2 separate regions of the Homo sapiens genome follow, and region 1 is linked to region 2. The links come from fine-mapping of genetic effects on gene expression. Tissue or cell type: whole blood. Region 2 holds a variant in brackets; the other region holds the start of a gene. All regions are shown on one strand. Distances are from middle to middle.

Region 1 (8,000 bases), 190 kb before region 2:
CTCACCTGGACACAGGCCTCCAGACACCACTCTCTCCACCATCCAGGGCTCTTTGCCTTGCTCTAGGAAGGAGATCACATCAGGTTTGGAAACGGCAAGACCTGGAGATGAGAAGAAACATGCCACCTGGTTATGGTGTGGGGGCCCCAGAATTCAGATCCAGGACCTGGTCATCAAGCAGGAGAGGCAGTTGCAGGAAGTGCCAGAGGAAGATGGGACAGTTGCCTGGGGGTAGGGGGATGCAGCTTCAGCCGACAGCGCCGCCCTTTAACCCCTCAAAAATGACCAACCAATCATAAGACTGAAAAGCACCCAAAAACTGACCAGGAAGGAACATGCCCAAGGATAACCTCCAAACTAACAGACGAGATCACCTTACCCAGTGAGACCAGGTTGCTGTAGGTCTCCAACATCACGTCTCTGTACAAATCCCTCTGAGCAGGTGCCAACCACTGCCATTCTTCTTGGGAGAAGACTATGGCCACATCCCTGAACAATTCTGACCCCTGGAATGACAGGCATGTATGATATATATGTATTTCAATGGTTCACAGTGGGATGAAAGGAGATGGGGCAGGTCTTTGCGGGAGGGGGGGTTGTTTTGTTGAACAAGAAGGGTGGGACTGAATGTGAAAGGTGACAGAAGAAATGGGGATGAGTAAAACAGAATGATCAAATTGTTCTCAAACATTCCTTTTAACTGCAAATCAATGCTCTGTGTACAGGTCTGGGATGAAAATTAAAATCAAGCTAAATGGAGTTTTCCTTATTGTTAAGAAACAGTGTAATAAAGCACACTGCCCACTCTATACTTGGCATACAATAAATTCTCAAGGTGAGACCTATCACTTCTATCTTTTGGAATAACAATAACAACAAAAAATATTTCTGATGGATTTTCCCCAAATATTTTATTTTTTAAAATTATGGAAACATGTTTTCTATCTTAGATACAGGATTTTCATGTAAGTCAAGAATTTCTTGGAGATGAAAGTTCATCATTATGTTGGAACATAACACAAGCATTTTTCTTCATGGGAAAAACCATGGAGATAACTTTTATTGAGTGCACAATTTTCTATCAAGTGAAACAACTGACTCAAACATCCTCTTATTTTGGATCCCGAGGTTGGATCAGATCTCTAAGGCTTTTCCAAGCCCTGACCACTCACCCACCTAGATGATCATCTCACTTGCTACATCGCTCACCATCCTCAGCTCTGTACTTTTCTTCCTCTTAAGCTAAAGAAACTAATGGAGGATGTCCCAGATTCAAATGCTCTGTCCAACGTCAAACTAGACTTTAATTCTGGCATCAAATTTTTGATGGATTCCCAGCCAAACCTCAATTACATATCCAATCATTAATCATTCCCAAAGCAGGACACTGTACCATGCGCTGAAACTGAAACCAACCAACACCACCTCCCCTGCTTTTCTATATGTGATTGCTCCTAAGCATTCATTCCATCTCTTCAAACTTCAGTTCTTACAAAGGATGCTCTCATTTCATACAGGGAAATGAGTTTCTCCTCCTAGCAGACGAAAACCATCAGGAGATGCAGAATGCTATAGAGAATAAATCTGTGGGCATTTGTCAGAGGGGAGAGGACAATGGGAGAGGAGACTCCTGCCTGGTCCTTTTATTCCCTAAAATGGGAAAGTCTGAGAACCAAATTTCTGGATGGAACCCAGGTGGAAAGTTTCAAGATAAGGAAAGCAAATATTTATGGGATTTAAAAACTCACAAGGGACATGACTTTTAGAATTTCAAGGGCTGATAGGTCCTCCTTCTGGTTCCTCTCTTGGGGAAGGGCAGAGTCCTGCGACGGTAGAGCTGGGGGAGGAAAGAGCAAACATGAGAGGCTAGGCTTGCCTCACAGTTCCTAGAATGCCAAGTTACAAGTCCCCACCTGCTTGCCCTCTGCCCACCAAGAAAATGAGAAGGAGGGGGAGGCAAAGGGATCCTCACCCAACCCCAGGAAACCAGCTTTAGCTGCTGCAAGGCAAAGGGGAACCAGTGGTCCTTTCCCTCCCATTTCCCCTAAACATCCAGTGGTTCTGTTTTGCTGCAAATGCAAGTCTAAGACAGGGATGCTGAGGGCTGTTCTAGTGACTGAGACCCACATGTTACCTCAAGGACAAGGAGGGCTTCCCTCAAGCCAGGGAGCATAGAAGGCCTGCATCATTTGCATAGCCCCAGCCTAGAATAAAGCCTTTCCAGGACTAGGCCATTTAACTCTCTCCTGCAGCAAATATAACACCTTTGAAAGTCTACCTGGCTCTTTTCCCAACCGCCAAATATACAAAAAGCTCTACAGCCCAAACTGAGGCTTTGTGCATGCCACTTCATGGAGCATGCCTTGCATCAACAAATGGGATAGAGTTGGAAGGAACAGTAAGAGACAAATTACACACAGCACGCCCAGTGCTCCATTATCAGCACATAAATGTGTCCTTCCATAGAGACACAGCAGTGCACAAAGCTGCATGTCCAATAATATTTGCTAAATAGGAGAACTGAAAATTAGTACGTAAGTAGGCAAGTCCACAAGTAGCCAAGAGGTTGAATCATTTTTGGCACAGCCATATAATGGGATGCCAAGTGACTATCAAAAATGACTATCAAAAACTGACAAGCAAAGATATTAACTACTGAATCCTTTGAGAACATTCAGCAAAAAGAAGTCAAACTCACTAACACACAGGCTAAAAACAAAACAAAACAAAAAAATTGGAAGAAAAAACACCCAAGTATTCGCAGTGTTGTCATTTAACCAGTTCTTGAGCTCACTGTTAAACAAGAAGTACTCTGTAAAGGAGTATATAAGGTGCCTACTGCATTACAAACATTTGGTTCTAAGTAACGTGTAAGTGAAATAATTATGAATGTTGCTTAATATGATGTAATAGGCAGCTTTTCCTTATTATGACCACTTTTATAAGCATTATTTGTATTAACTGCACGATATCCTATTTACAAAGGATGGCCTGTGATCCACTCAAGTGTTTCCCCATTGCTGGACATAGAATTTGAACATATAAAATGTTCCCAAGTATAAGTTTTTCTAAACTAGCGGTTCTAAGTCTTCTGGGGTCTTGTAACTCTCTGAGAACCTCATGAAACAAGATTTCCTCTCAGATTAAAAAAAAAAAAAGGCACGCATAACAGTGAATGCAAAACATCCGCAATTTCAGGGGGTCGGAGACCCCTGCGCACCCACCTAAGGGGTCCATGCACCTGGGCTATGAGGCTGGAAGCAGAAAGGGGGCGCCAGAAAGCGCACGCCGCGAGGGCCGGCGGGAAATGTAGTCTCACGCCGGTAAAGCCACAGAGCGACGATGAGGCGAGACGTCTGCGTTCTTCTCAGGCCTGAGACCCAACCGGCCCGGGCACCAGCTCCTGCTGGACCCCAGAGCGCCTGGAAAGCTCCGGAACCTCTCACCTGCCGCCTCCTCGGGTCCAAGTGCCACCGCGGCCGCGCCCCCGGCAGCCCAGGGCGCGCTTCCACCACGGTACCGGTGGATTCGCCGTGCGCAGCCGGAAGATGGCGCAGACGCACAAAGCACACCGATGCTGCGCCATGATAGGGCCGGCGCCGCAGTGTCTTCCGGGAAACATAGTCTTTAGGCGTAAAGGCAGCAGCCCGGCCTTGAAGCCGGATCTCGCGATGTTTCAGGGTGAGCCGGACGCAGGCGTGCCTGCGCAGTGCGCGGAGGAGTGCTGTTCGTGTGTTCGAGTCCCTGGGTTGCTTCCTGGGGTCTGTGGTGCTGGGTGTGCTATCTGCGTGTGATTCTCTAGCGAGAGATTGTGGGCGAGTGACCGAGTGGGCAAGGGGCCGTCACTGTGTGTGCGTGATTTTGACAGTGTGTGGTGGTAGCTTCTGACTCCGCGTGGGTCGTTGAATGTATGACTGGGACCGTTTAGCGGTGGATACACAACTGTGTGCGGCTGTGGAAGATTGCCTCATCCGTTACGTTCCCATTTCCGTGGAACAACAGTTTTACCAGAAGGTTTCGAAGGAACCTTAAAGTTTGGAAGCGTAAGAGTTTATCTGGTAACTAATTTTAAACATTACATCTATGGTGAGTTAAATGTGGGTTATGAAGGAGAACGCAAAATAAAAACGTTATAAAGATGTAAAGGAGTTTTATGGGGCGGCATCTCTTGGGCAAATATCAGACCGCCGTAGGTAGTTGTTAATTCTCTCTTGTTTTTAGGCGGCTTTGGTGTCATCAAATGTGAGAAGCCCTGGACTTTACACATCCCGAGCCAGTGTGATCCAGTATGATTGGGAGTCCGAGTGCCAGATGCCGGTCAGGACCTGTTATGCTGGGTCTCAGAATGCGGAAACTCTCCCTGTCCGAGGTGGAACAGTTTGTCCTTGAGTGAGGACTGGAGTCCTGAGTGACTCTTTTGATTTGATCCTGTTTCCCTCAAACCTGGTGAGCTCTATGGTGTAATAAATGGTTAAGAGTGTGAACCCTTAACCATCTCTAAGACTGGAGCCAGAATGCCTGAACTCCAGTCTTAGAGATGTGCCTCGGTCTCCACATTTGAAAGTGAGGATGATTGTGGCATCTAATTCATTGAGTTGTTGGGGAGGAGTAACTGATATGTAAAATAATGCTACTGCTGCTGGATAAGGATGCTAATATGACTGAAGCTAATGCTTTCTTTCTGCAAAGATGCTTTTTCCAAAACACACCATATTGCCTCTTTACACATTCTTCAGGAGAGGGTAGAGGCTGCATTTTCCTTGTAGGTGCGGTGATGTGGTGGAAAGCACACTTTTAGAATTAGACAGATGTGGATTCAAATAGCATTTCAGCCATTTATTAGTTTCTTCGTGCCTATCTCGGTTTTGTTTTGTTTTTTTTTTTTTGTCCATAAAAGGAAGAATGTAATGCTGGGCTTGCAGCTTTGTCCTGAGGGTCAAATAAAATGATTTAATAATATAAGCAAAGCTCAGAGGTTGGTTATTGCTGATTACTGATATTAAAAGACAACTTCAGCAAGGATGGTTGAATTTCACACTTGTGAGCGGACAGTTGAGGAGACAGTTGTAGATTTATCCTACTTGACCTTATTTGTGGTTCAAGACAGTGTTGCGAGTTCAAGAGGAGAGGGTAGATGCAAAAAGTCATCATCTTTCCTATGTTCTCTGATCTTGGGAAGGGGCGAGTGGCTCTAGTTTCCCTTTAACATCCCACTGTGTTGAGTGTGTCTATATGTACATGCGTCAGTATTTGCTTATGGAGGAAAGGAAGGAAAAAGACCAAACAGGTACAAAGCCAGCCATCTCTCAGGCTAACTTTCTTCTATACCATTTTTACTTTCTCACATTCATTAATCTGCCAAAGAGAAATTTAGAGGATGATGAAATGGCCACTTCTGACTCTGAACCAAGCCTCTGAAGTCATACACCATTATACTCTTGGTCACAAAATCAGCTGTGAGTCTAAGTAGGTGGAGGCTACACAAGAGTATAAGTACTAGGAGGCAGGGATCATTCAGGGTCGTCTTAGAGGGTGGCTTCCAGTTTCTTCCTTTTAAGAGTATGAGAATGCTCTGAGCTAGCCTCTCCATTCCATGGAATCCATAGGTCTTTTGTCAGCCACTTCCCAGTACACATTCCTGTGCCAAAGCACATGCAGAGTTTGTAGGGTCCAGCCCCACAGGGTCGGTTGGTTTCTCCCCGTGTGCGGAGACGAGAGATTGTAGAAATAAAGACGCAAGACAGAGATAAAAGAAAAGACAGCTGGGCCCAGGGGACCACTACCACCAAGACGCGGAGACTGGTAGTGGCCCCGAATGCCAGGCTGCGCTGATATTTATTGGATACAAGACAAAGGGGCAGGATAAGGAGTGTGAGCCATCTCCAATGATAGGTAAGGCCACATGGGTCACATGTCCACTGGACAGGGGGCCCTTTCCTGCCTGGCAGCCGAGGCAGAGAGAGAGAGGAGAAAGAGAGAGAGAGCTTACACCATTATTTCTACTTATTAGAGACTTAGTACTTTCACTGGTTTGCTACTGCTAACTAAACGGCAGAGCCAGGTGTACAGGATGGAACATGAAGGTGGACTAGGAGCGTGACCACTGAAGCACAGCATCACAGGGAGACGGTTAGGCCTCCGGATAACTGCAGGTGGGCCTGAGGCCCTCCACAAGTGGTGGAGGAGTAGAGTCTTCTCTAAACTCCCCCGGGGAAAGGGAGACTCCCTTTCCCGGTCCGCTACGTAGCAGGTGTTTTTCCTTGACACTAACACTACTGCTAGACCACGGTCCGCTTGGCAACGGGCATCTTCCCAGATGCTGGCATCACCGCTAGACCAAGGAGCCCTCTGGTGGCCCTGTCTGGGCATAACAGAAGGCTCGCACTCTTGTCTTCTGGTCACTTCTCACTATGTCTCCTCAGCTCCTATCTCTATATGGCCTGGCTTTTCCCAGGTTATGATTATAGAGTGAGGATTATTATAATTTGGAATAAAGAGTAATTGCTACCAACTAATGATTAATGATATTCATATATAATCATATCTAAGATCTATATCTGGTATAACTATTCTTGTTTTATATTTTATTATACTGGAACAGCTCGTGTCCTCGGTCTCTTGCCTTGGCACCTGGGTGGCTTGCCGCCCACAGAGTTACTCCAGCAGCTCCCTCTCCTGTTATCCCCAGCCATATCCGTGCTTCTGCCAGATTCCTTCTGTTTCAGGATCACCCATTATCACTTGAATGAGATCAACTGTGGGGAGGTGGGCCATATTCTGTTGTGCATAGTAATCCAAGCAAGGAATCACACAACAAAGTGGGTTCTAACCCAATCTTAGCTACTTACTCCCTGAGTGACCTTGGGCACCTCCCCCAATTTTTCTGACCTAAAATCTGTGCATTATAATAATAATAAATTTCCACGGAGGAAGTATAACCTTTTCAACAAACAGTGCTGGAGCAACTGGACATCCATAGCCAAAAAAGAAAAAGGATAAAAGGCTTTTCTGCAGTACTAATCCAGGAGAAAAATAAATGTATTGCATCTTCCTTGTGACAACTGAGGACAAAATACATGTGGCCTCTCTCTGAGGACTTTTTTTTTTAAGAGACAAGGTCTCACTCTGTCACCCAAGCTGGTGTGCAGTGGTGTTCCTGGACTGAACTGAAGGTCAGGCTGCTTATTCTCGCAGCCCTATAACAAGATGCTGATGAACTGTGAAAGAAGAGAGTTTTATTTCTGTAACCGGGTACAGGGAGAGGGCCAGAAAAATATTGCCAGACCAACTCAAAATTACAAAGTTTTCCAGTGCTTATCTACCTTCTAAGCTATATGTCTACATGTTAGTGTGCATTCATCTAAAGACACAAGTGATTAATTTCTTCTAATCTATAACTAAGGTCTGAGTTATAGACCTTGGGGACATTCCTCTGGAGCCTCAGTGATTTTACTTACTCTAGATGGGTCCAAGTGCCAAAGGTAATTACCTTATCTTGTCTCCTACTAAGTTATGGAGGTCTGGAGAGTTCCTTTAGACCCCCAATAAAACTTGTTTAATCCTAAATGGATCCTGGTATGAGGAGTGTGACCATTCCTTCATTATTTTGTCATGCTTCAAATCATCAGCCTTTGTGTTAGGGCGCTGGCTCTCTCAGCCTTTAATATTTAACCTAACCATTTAGTCAATGCTAGAACAGTTCTTATGGAGGCCTGCCTGTTCAGTTTTTGTGAGATCTGGCTTGCCACAGTGGCACAAACGGCTTACTGCAGCCTCAACTTCCTGGGCTTAAGCGATCCTCCTACCTCAGCCTCCCAAGTAGCTGAGAACACAGGTGCGTACCACCACACCAGCTAATTTTTCTTTTCTTTTTTTTTTTCTGTAGAGATGGGAGCCTCACTGTATTGCCCAGGCTGGTCTTGAACTCCGGAGCTCAAGTGATCGTCTTGCTTCAGCCTTGCAAAATGATGGTGAAGCTGCATCATTGTCTGGGGTAAATA
Region 2 (8,264 bases):
CCTTAAAAGGTGAGTTTATTGAGTTAACATGTATTACAGCTATTTTCTTCCCTCTGCCTTTTTCTTTTTTGTATTTCTTGTGTTATTTATTCTTGTTTTGTTGTTTATTAGGTCTGTTTTTTTCTCACTCTCTTCTTTATACCACCCCACCCTTTGAATTAGAAAAGTTTTTAGTTCTACAAGTTGTTACCTTTATGTATTTATATATTTTAAGATCTTTTAGAATTTTTCTGCTTGGTATTCCAAACATTGTCTTCTGATACCCTTACAAAAGATGAAGAAATTAGCTCATGAATATTACTTTCTTTCCCTGTGTACATCATTTCCCCACTTATATTGTGCTCACTGGGATTTTTGACGCAGGGTATTTCATTCAATTTTTTTTTTTTTTTTTTAATTTTCTTGCCTTGCTTTGTAGCTGTTTTACTGATTTAGAAAGCTAGATAAGAGACGACAGAAATATATTGCAAGAAAATGAACCTCAAATGAGATGGTCCTGGTTTAATCTGTGGCCTGAAGCGTAGACTTTTCCTACTTTCAGTTCTTCATTTTATTTTATTTTATTTTACTTTTTAAAATTAGAGACAGGATCTTGCTATGTTACCCAGGCTGGAGTTGAACTTTTGGGCTCAAGCAATACTCCCACCACAGCTTCTTGAGTAGCTAGGACTACAGGAATGCATCACCACACCTGGCCCTACTTTCAGTTCTTATAGTTTCAACAAGAGGATTGTGGGTTACTTGTGGTCCTATGTACATTAATAAATAAGAAATAATGAAAATCAGTAAGCATCTGATTCACAATATTAGAAAAAGAACAAAATGAATTTAAGGAAAGCCCAGATAAGTTATATGTAGTGATTTATACGTCTACAAATAAAAGTAGGAATAAATGAATTAGAAACAGTAGCGCTACTGAAAATAAAGTATTGTACATACTTCATTAGAAAACCAACACAGTATATAAACTAAGGACAAATGAGAGAAAACACAAAAACAAAATAATTATAAATAACCACACATGCATAAGAACTTAAAAGAATCATGTGAATCTATTTTCCTCAACTCTCCATAAAATAATTTGAAAAAATAGATGATATTCTAGAAGAATATAATAATGTAGGTTACCATAACTGATACCAAGAGGAGATACAACATTTAAACAAGTAAGTTACCATCAGAGAAATGTAGAATGTTGTATAGGAACTGCCTCCCCCAAGAAAAGAAGCCACATCCCCGAATAGTTCTTTAAGGAAAAATATCATCAATGTTGTTTAAATTGTTCTGGGATAGAGAATAAAAAGAGAGCTTAAAACATTTTTGTTTATGAATACAGCATATCCGATGATACCAAAATTACCAAAATAGCACCAAAAAGAGAAATTAGAGACAAACCTCAATTATCAATATTGGTTCAAAATCTTAAAAGGTCATATTGAAATAGTATACCATGGCCAAGGAGGATTTATTACAGCAGTGCAAGGATGGTTGTATCACCTAATCTTATGTAAGAACCATAAAAACATGTACCTCTGCTTGTGGGTTTCAATAACTATGTGATTCACATTTTCATTTTCGAAATTTCCATTATTCTAGCATTTAATAAAGGAGACATTTACTTTCTTAATATCTTTCAGACTTGGAGTGTGTGTGGGTGACCAAATCATTATCTTTAAACCAGGATATTTATGAAGAAAAATTACCCCCGGCAATCATAATGGAAAGACTTAAAAGCTATGACCTTGAATGTTCAACATTAGGGAAAAACTGGAAATGTGAAGACTTGTTTGAGAGGGAGCTTGTAAACCAGAAGACACATTTTAGGCAAGAGACCATCACTCATATAGATACTCTTATTGAAAAAAGAGATCACTCTAACAAATCTGGGACAGTTTTTCATCTGAATACATTATCTTATATAAAACAGATTTTTCCCATGGAAGAGAGAATATTTAATTTTCATACAGATAAGAAAAGCTTAAAAACACATTCAGTTGTGAAAAAACACAAGCAAGACCGTGGAGAAAAGAAACTTTTAAAATGTAATGACTGTGAGAAAATATTCAGCAAAATCTCAACCCTTACTCTTCACCAAAGAATTCATACAGGAGAGAAACCCTATGAATGTATTGAATGTGGAAAGGCCTTTAGCCAGAGTGCCCACCTTGCTCAACATCAGAGAATACACACAGGAGAAAAACCTTTTGAATGTACTGAATGTGGGAAAGCCTTCAGCCAGAATGCTCATCTTGTTCAACACCAGAGAGTTCATACTGGAGAGAAACCTTATCAGTGTAAGCAGTGTAATAAAGCATTCAGCCAGCTTGCACACCTTGCTCAACATCAGAGGGTCCACACTGGAGAGAAACCCTATGAATGTATTGAATGTGGGAAGGCTTTTAGTGATTGCTCATCCCTAGCTCATCATCGAAGGATTCACACTGGGAAAAGACCTTATGAATGTATTGACTGTGGGAAAGCTTTCAGGCAGAATGCTTCTCTTATACGTCATCGGCGATATTATCATACTGGAGAGAAACCCTTTGACTGTATTGATTGTGGGAAGGCTTTCACTGATCACATAGGACTTATTCAGCATAAGAGAACTCATACTGGAGAGAGACCTTACAAATGTAATGTGTGTGGGAAGGCTTTTAGCCATGGCTCATCTCTGACAGTACATCAGAGAATTCATACAGGAGAGAAACCTTATGAATGCAATATCTGTGAGAAAGCCTTCAGCCATCGTGGGTCTCTTACTCTTCATCAGAGAGTTCATACTGGAGAGAAACCCTATGAATGTAAAGAATGTGGGAAAGCTTTCCGGCAGAGCACGCATCTGGCTCATCATCAGAGAATTCATACTGGAGAGAAACCTTATGAATGTAAGGAATGCAGCAAAACCTTCAGCCAGAATGCACACCTCGCGCAACATCAGAAAATACACACTGGGGAGAAACCTTATGAATGTAAGGAATGTGGTAAGGCCTTCAGTCAGATTGCACACCTTGTTCAGCACCAGAGAGTTCATACTGGTGAGAAGCCTTACGAATGTATTGAATGTGGGAAGGCCTTTAGTGATGGCTCATATCTTGTTCAACATCAGAGACTCCACAGTGGCAAAAGACCGTATGAATGTCTTGAATGTGGGAAGGCATTCAGGCAGAGGGCATCCTTGATTTGTCATCAGAGATGTCATACTGGTGAGAAACCTTATGAATGTAATGTTTGTGGGAAAGCCTTTAGCCATCGTAAATCCCTTACTCTGCATCAGAGAATTCATACAGGAGAGAAACCTTATGAGTGTAAGGAATGTAGCAAAGCCTTCAGCCAGGTTGCCCATCTTACTCTACATAAGAGAATTCATACTGGAGAAAGGCCCTATGAGTGTAAAGAATGTGGAAAAGCCTTCAGGCAGAGTGTACATCTTGCTCATCATCAGCGAATTCATACCGGAGAGTCATCAGTTATTCTCTCCTCTGCCCTCCCATACCACCAAGTCCTATAGATTCAATCTCGTAAATGCTTCTAGCATCCATCTGCTTTTTTCCAGCACATGTCCCATCATCATAGTCCAAGACGCAACCATCTCATCTGGATTTCTGCAGTAGCATAACTGTTGCCCCTTTTGCTTCTATCAACTACATGTTTAACACTGTAGGCAGCCTAACCTTTTAAAAATAAAAATACATAATTTATGTTATTTTCCCATTTAAAACACTTGATTTGAAAAATATATTAACTAATCCATTTCAAGGATTTAGCACACACTGGCATATAGTTATTGCTAAATAAATGCTAGCCATTAAGGTAAAGGTTTCCTTACAAACTATCATATTAAGCAGCAAGTAAACCAAACAGTAAGTCTAAGACTAAGATTTTAGAGCAGACAGAAGACTACTCTCCTGGTAGAGAGGAAAGATGAACAAACTCAGAATTGAAAGATTTA[TGGTACACAA/T]GGTAACATGGTGGCTTATCACTCCCTCTGTGACATTGTTGATGAGCAACTCTCACTTTACCTGACACTGAGAAGTGAGAATCAGCCAATTAGAACAAAAGCTTTTAGCTGGGTGCGGTGGCTCATGCCTGTAGTCCCAGCACTTTGGGAGGCTGAGGCAGGCAGATTGCTTGAGCTCAGGAGTTCGAGACCAACCTGAGCAACATGGTGAAACCCTGTCTCTACAAAAAATACAGAAATTAGCCAGGCGTGGTGGTGCACACCTGTAGTCCTAGCTACTCAGGAGGCTGAAGCAGGAGGATTGCTTGAGCCCAGGAGGTAGAGGTTGCAGTGAGTCATGATCACACCACTGCAATTCCAGCTGGGCAGCAGAGCCAGACACTGTCTCAAGGAAAAACAAAGAACAAAAGCATTTGGTAGAATGTAGGACTAACCAGGGTAGGTAGTAGTAAACCAAAAGTAACAAGCCAAAAAAACTTGAATAGATTAATAGCCATGAAACACTGAAAAGGGTAGTTCAATACTTTGGCCTTTATAAAAGTACCACAGACAATTCGTGTGGTATTTAAATTGTTCTAGCATAAAATAAAATGCAATAAGACCTTCCATCTTGTTCCATGAGATTGACAAGACATGCCAAAACATAAAAATATGTACACTGCAATTAGTTTCTGAATGTAGATGTTACAACTTAAACTTATTTTTAAAATATTTAAAAATAGGAAGGCTAGACATGCCTCTGTATAGAAAATCTGATAAAAATATTTCTCCCTAAATTGTAAATTCATTGATATTCCAGTAAAAATTTCCATATTTTTTTAGTTGAGAAGCTGATTCTGATCATCTGTAGAATTTTGATTTTAACGAGGAATGTAGTTTACATTAGGAATGTAGTACTAATACTAATTGAACATTTGCTAATGTTTCACACACTATTTTAGGTGCTGGGGGATACAGTAAGGTACAAGATGGACAAAAATACGTGCTCTTACAGATCTAGTAGAACAGAAAAAATTAAATGCATGCTATGTGATAAGTATATGATATGTCCCATAAAGAGAAATGATATAAAAAAGAAGCTAGGGAGTGCTGGATCAGGCACCTTACTATCCCCAGAACATGTTGGTATTAGAGGATGAGGGAAGAACTAGAGGTAACTGTGAGACACAAAAGGCATAATGAAAATAGTCATGATAGTCCCAAGGCAGATATTGTTTATGATGCTTTGAGTGTTGGAGGAAGGGAGGATTGATGGTTTAACAGAGATCATGGCAGTTATGTTCACTCATATAAATGTTGATTTAGAAGCTGGTGGAAGGGTATTTTTTGAGTGACAGCTTTATTGAGACAAAGCAATTCTGGAGAACACCCATATCCTTCTCTCTGTATCCATCAGCAGAAGTGAAGAGGGAGCCCCAAAGTTCCACTTAAAGTGTACAACTTATGGCTTTTAGTTCATTCACGGAGTTGTGCAACCATCACCACCATCAATTTTAGAACATTTTCATCACCTCAAAGAGGAATCCCTTGTCCTTTTGTAGTTATGGCCATCCCTGGAAGAGTACTTTTTTTTTTTTTTCAACTGAAGCACCCAGAGCTCTTGGGTTCCCTCTTAACTGCTTTCTGTGGAAGTATAGAGGGCCATGTGAGGGAAGCCGTTATCCAGAGTACATGACTGCTAGAAAATGGAGTTTGGGGCTCCCTCTTCACTTCTGCTGATAGAAGCATAATGGCTAGGGGATGGGTAGTCTCACCAGAGAATGTGGAGCTTTCAGACTCTCCTTATATATGATAAAAAGGATTTTTCATTGTAGTGGGGAAAAGGTGGTTTGATCAAATGGCATTGGGAAACTTAGCTCACTGGAAAAACAGATCTGTACCTTTCACACTAATGAAATGCCTGAGATATTAAAGGTCTAAATGTAAAATTAAAGTACATGAAAAACAGAATAATATATATGTACCCTCGGTTTGAAATAGACTTTAAGCACTAATGCATAACCCCAAAGCTGACATTAGGCTTTTATATGGTGGAAAACATCATAGTCAATAGATAAATGAGAGACTGACACAAAGTGTTTGCAACAGATATAATAAAGGACTGTAATTCGTGATATTCAAAGTACTATTACAAACCAATAATAATCTGCAACTTAGAAAAATGGACTAATGTCCCATTCACAAAAGATGCAATAAAAGCAGTTAATGAAAATTATCCAATATCACTAGAAATCAAGAAATGCAAATTAAAGTGATTATCTACTTTTTCCCCAAAAGACTGACTAATCGAGTGATAACATTCAGTATTGGTGAATGTGTGGAAACAAGGGAATTCCATTGTTGATTACATATCTATTGCTTTATGTATATACCCTTTGAATTAATATTCCTTGGAAACCAACATATACAAAGGTAGATAAATGTATTAGTGGCAAAAAAATTAATGGTAAACTATTAAAACAACAAGTGTCCATCAGGGTAATAAATAAATTAATTATGGTATATATCCATTCAATAGGAATTATGCAGCTGTTGAAAAAAAATCAATGTGTGTAGTCATAGAAAGATAGCTGTGCTATACTAAATGAAAAATTGCAGACCTGTATTGTAGTATAGGCCCATAATTGTGATATCAAAAATAAAAATCAAAATATATATTATAGTAGGCATTTGTTTTTCTCTGCCCAGTTTCCCTTGCCTCCTCCTTTTGGCTGCACTATCTCATCTTTTCCTTTTGAGTAACTGGCCATACCCTACCATATGTTTTTGATGGACGTGGCCAATAAAATTGTCTCTGAATTTCAAAAGGCATTTGGATCTGTGTCATCCAATGGCAACTCCCTAAAAGCTGATGCAGTTATTCTTTTGATTGGTCCTTGGAACCACCCTGGTTTTTGTACTTTCCAAGTCTGTGATTCCTCAAACTACCCATTGTCTTTCCGGTACTTGATTTTTGCCTCCTGTTGGTCAGTTGCTTGCAAGTAAAGAAACAATCATACAGAATTTGGTACGAAGATTGGGTAATGGGCATTAGAATCTTTGGAAAAATCAGGTATTGGGAGTTGCTTTTTGGATGAGATGGGGCGAATAAGACTTATATTCTAGACTGGAAAGCATCTCATGGTGTGCGATGAGCAAACGCCTGATTATTCATTATAGTCACCTGGGATGAATAGAGGTCTAGGGTTCTGGATAATGATAATTTAAGGAGGATGGAGAATGCTGAATCCAAAAGGTATATGTAATACTGGTATCTAACTGCTTGGAATAACTTAAAGTTTAGCTCTTGAATTTCTAGCATTAAGGCAAAAAAAATTCACCTAAGGGATTTTGTATGATATTGTTGAAAGATGTCTTACATTGTTTAAAGTCATAGGGTTAAGATGGCTCATAACCAAATTTAGAGACTATTTTTATGCATTGTTAAAGTGGAATGCTGGTTAAATTTTATACTTTATTCACAAGAGTCACTGTGAATTGAATTGTGAATTCAGTTCTGAATTGTGTTCCCACCAGCACCACCAAATGCTGGCCTCTACCACCACCAAATTTACTTGTTGAAGTCCTAAACCCCAACATGACTGTATTTGGACATAAGGCCTTTAAGAAACTAAGGTTAAGTTAGGCCATAAGAGTGAGGCCCTAATCCCATAGGACTAGTGTCCTTATAAGAGGAAGAGACACCAGAGGTTTGTCTCTCCACATGTGCACAGAGGAAATGCTGTGTAAGGACACAACAAGAATGCTGCCATCTGCAAGCCAGGAGGAGAGACCTCACCAGGAACCAGCCCTGCCAGCACCTTGATCTTGGACTTTTAATCTCCAGGACTGTGAGAAAATAAATGTTGGTTGTTTAAGCCACCCAGTCTGTGGTATATTGTTACGGCAGCCTGAACTGATTAATGCAATTACCATATAATTTATTGTTCAAACTGGGACATTTTTGAGAGTGAAAGGAGTAGCTAACTGCACAGGGCACTTGACAACAGGTGTTCATATCCTCAGCAAAGCAGGATATATGGTCATACTTCTTGTGTAACAGAATATTGAACAGAAAAAAATATAGCTCTACTATTGGAAAGGTGATATTGGAGATGAGCCAAAGGATTGGAATATACTGAACTTCCGGATTCGTGTGATATACCACCTATTAACATCTGTTTGCATAGGTACATATGGCTGTTCTGAAGAGACAGCTAACAGTTCATCTTATTCCCCCATTCCATTGTTGCTCACATGGAATAACAAAGTGAATTTAACATGACCATAACATTAAATGCAAAAATCAGGCTGAGCACAGTGGCTC

Evidence for each region. PIP is the estimated chance that this variant, and not a neighbour inherited with it, causes the effect.
Region 1: ZNF582-DT starts here. The variant in region 2 is fine-mapped to the expression of ZNF582-DT in whole blood (TOPMed, PIP 0.99).

Annotation. Positions count from the first base shown.
Region 1 is chr19:56,389,996-56,397,995 of GRCh38, forward strand. It overlaps ZNF582-DT (ZNF582 divergent transcript), which reads left to right and starts at 3,681. Exons shown (of 2, transcript NR_037160.1): 1 at 3,681-4,058; 2 at 7,886-8,000. ZNF582 (zinc finger protein 582) reads right to left here and starts at 3,539. Exons shown (of 5, transcript NM_001320371.4): 1 at 3,225-3,539; 2 at 1,749-1,837; 3 at 380-506; 4 at 6-101. The coding sequence starts at 1,757.
Region 2 is chr19:56,575,076-56,583,339 of GRCh38, forward strand. It overlaps ZNF470 (zinc finger protein 470), which reads left to right. Exons shown (of 6, transcript NM_001001668.4): 6 at 1,638-7,819. The coding sequence ends at 3,508. Among named protein-coding and RNA genes, the nearest start is that of ZNF470-DT, 11 kb to the left of the region's middle. The variant TGGTACACAA/T (reference allele first, on the strand shown) is at 3,950.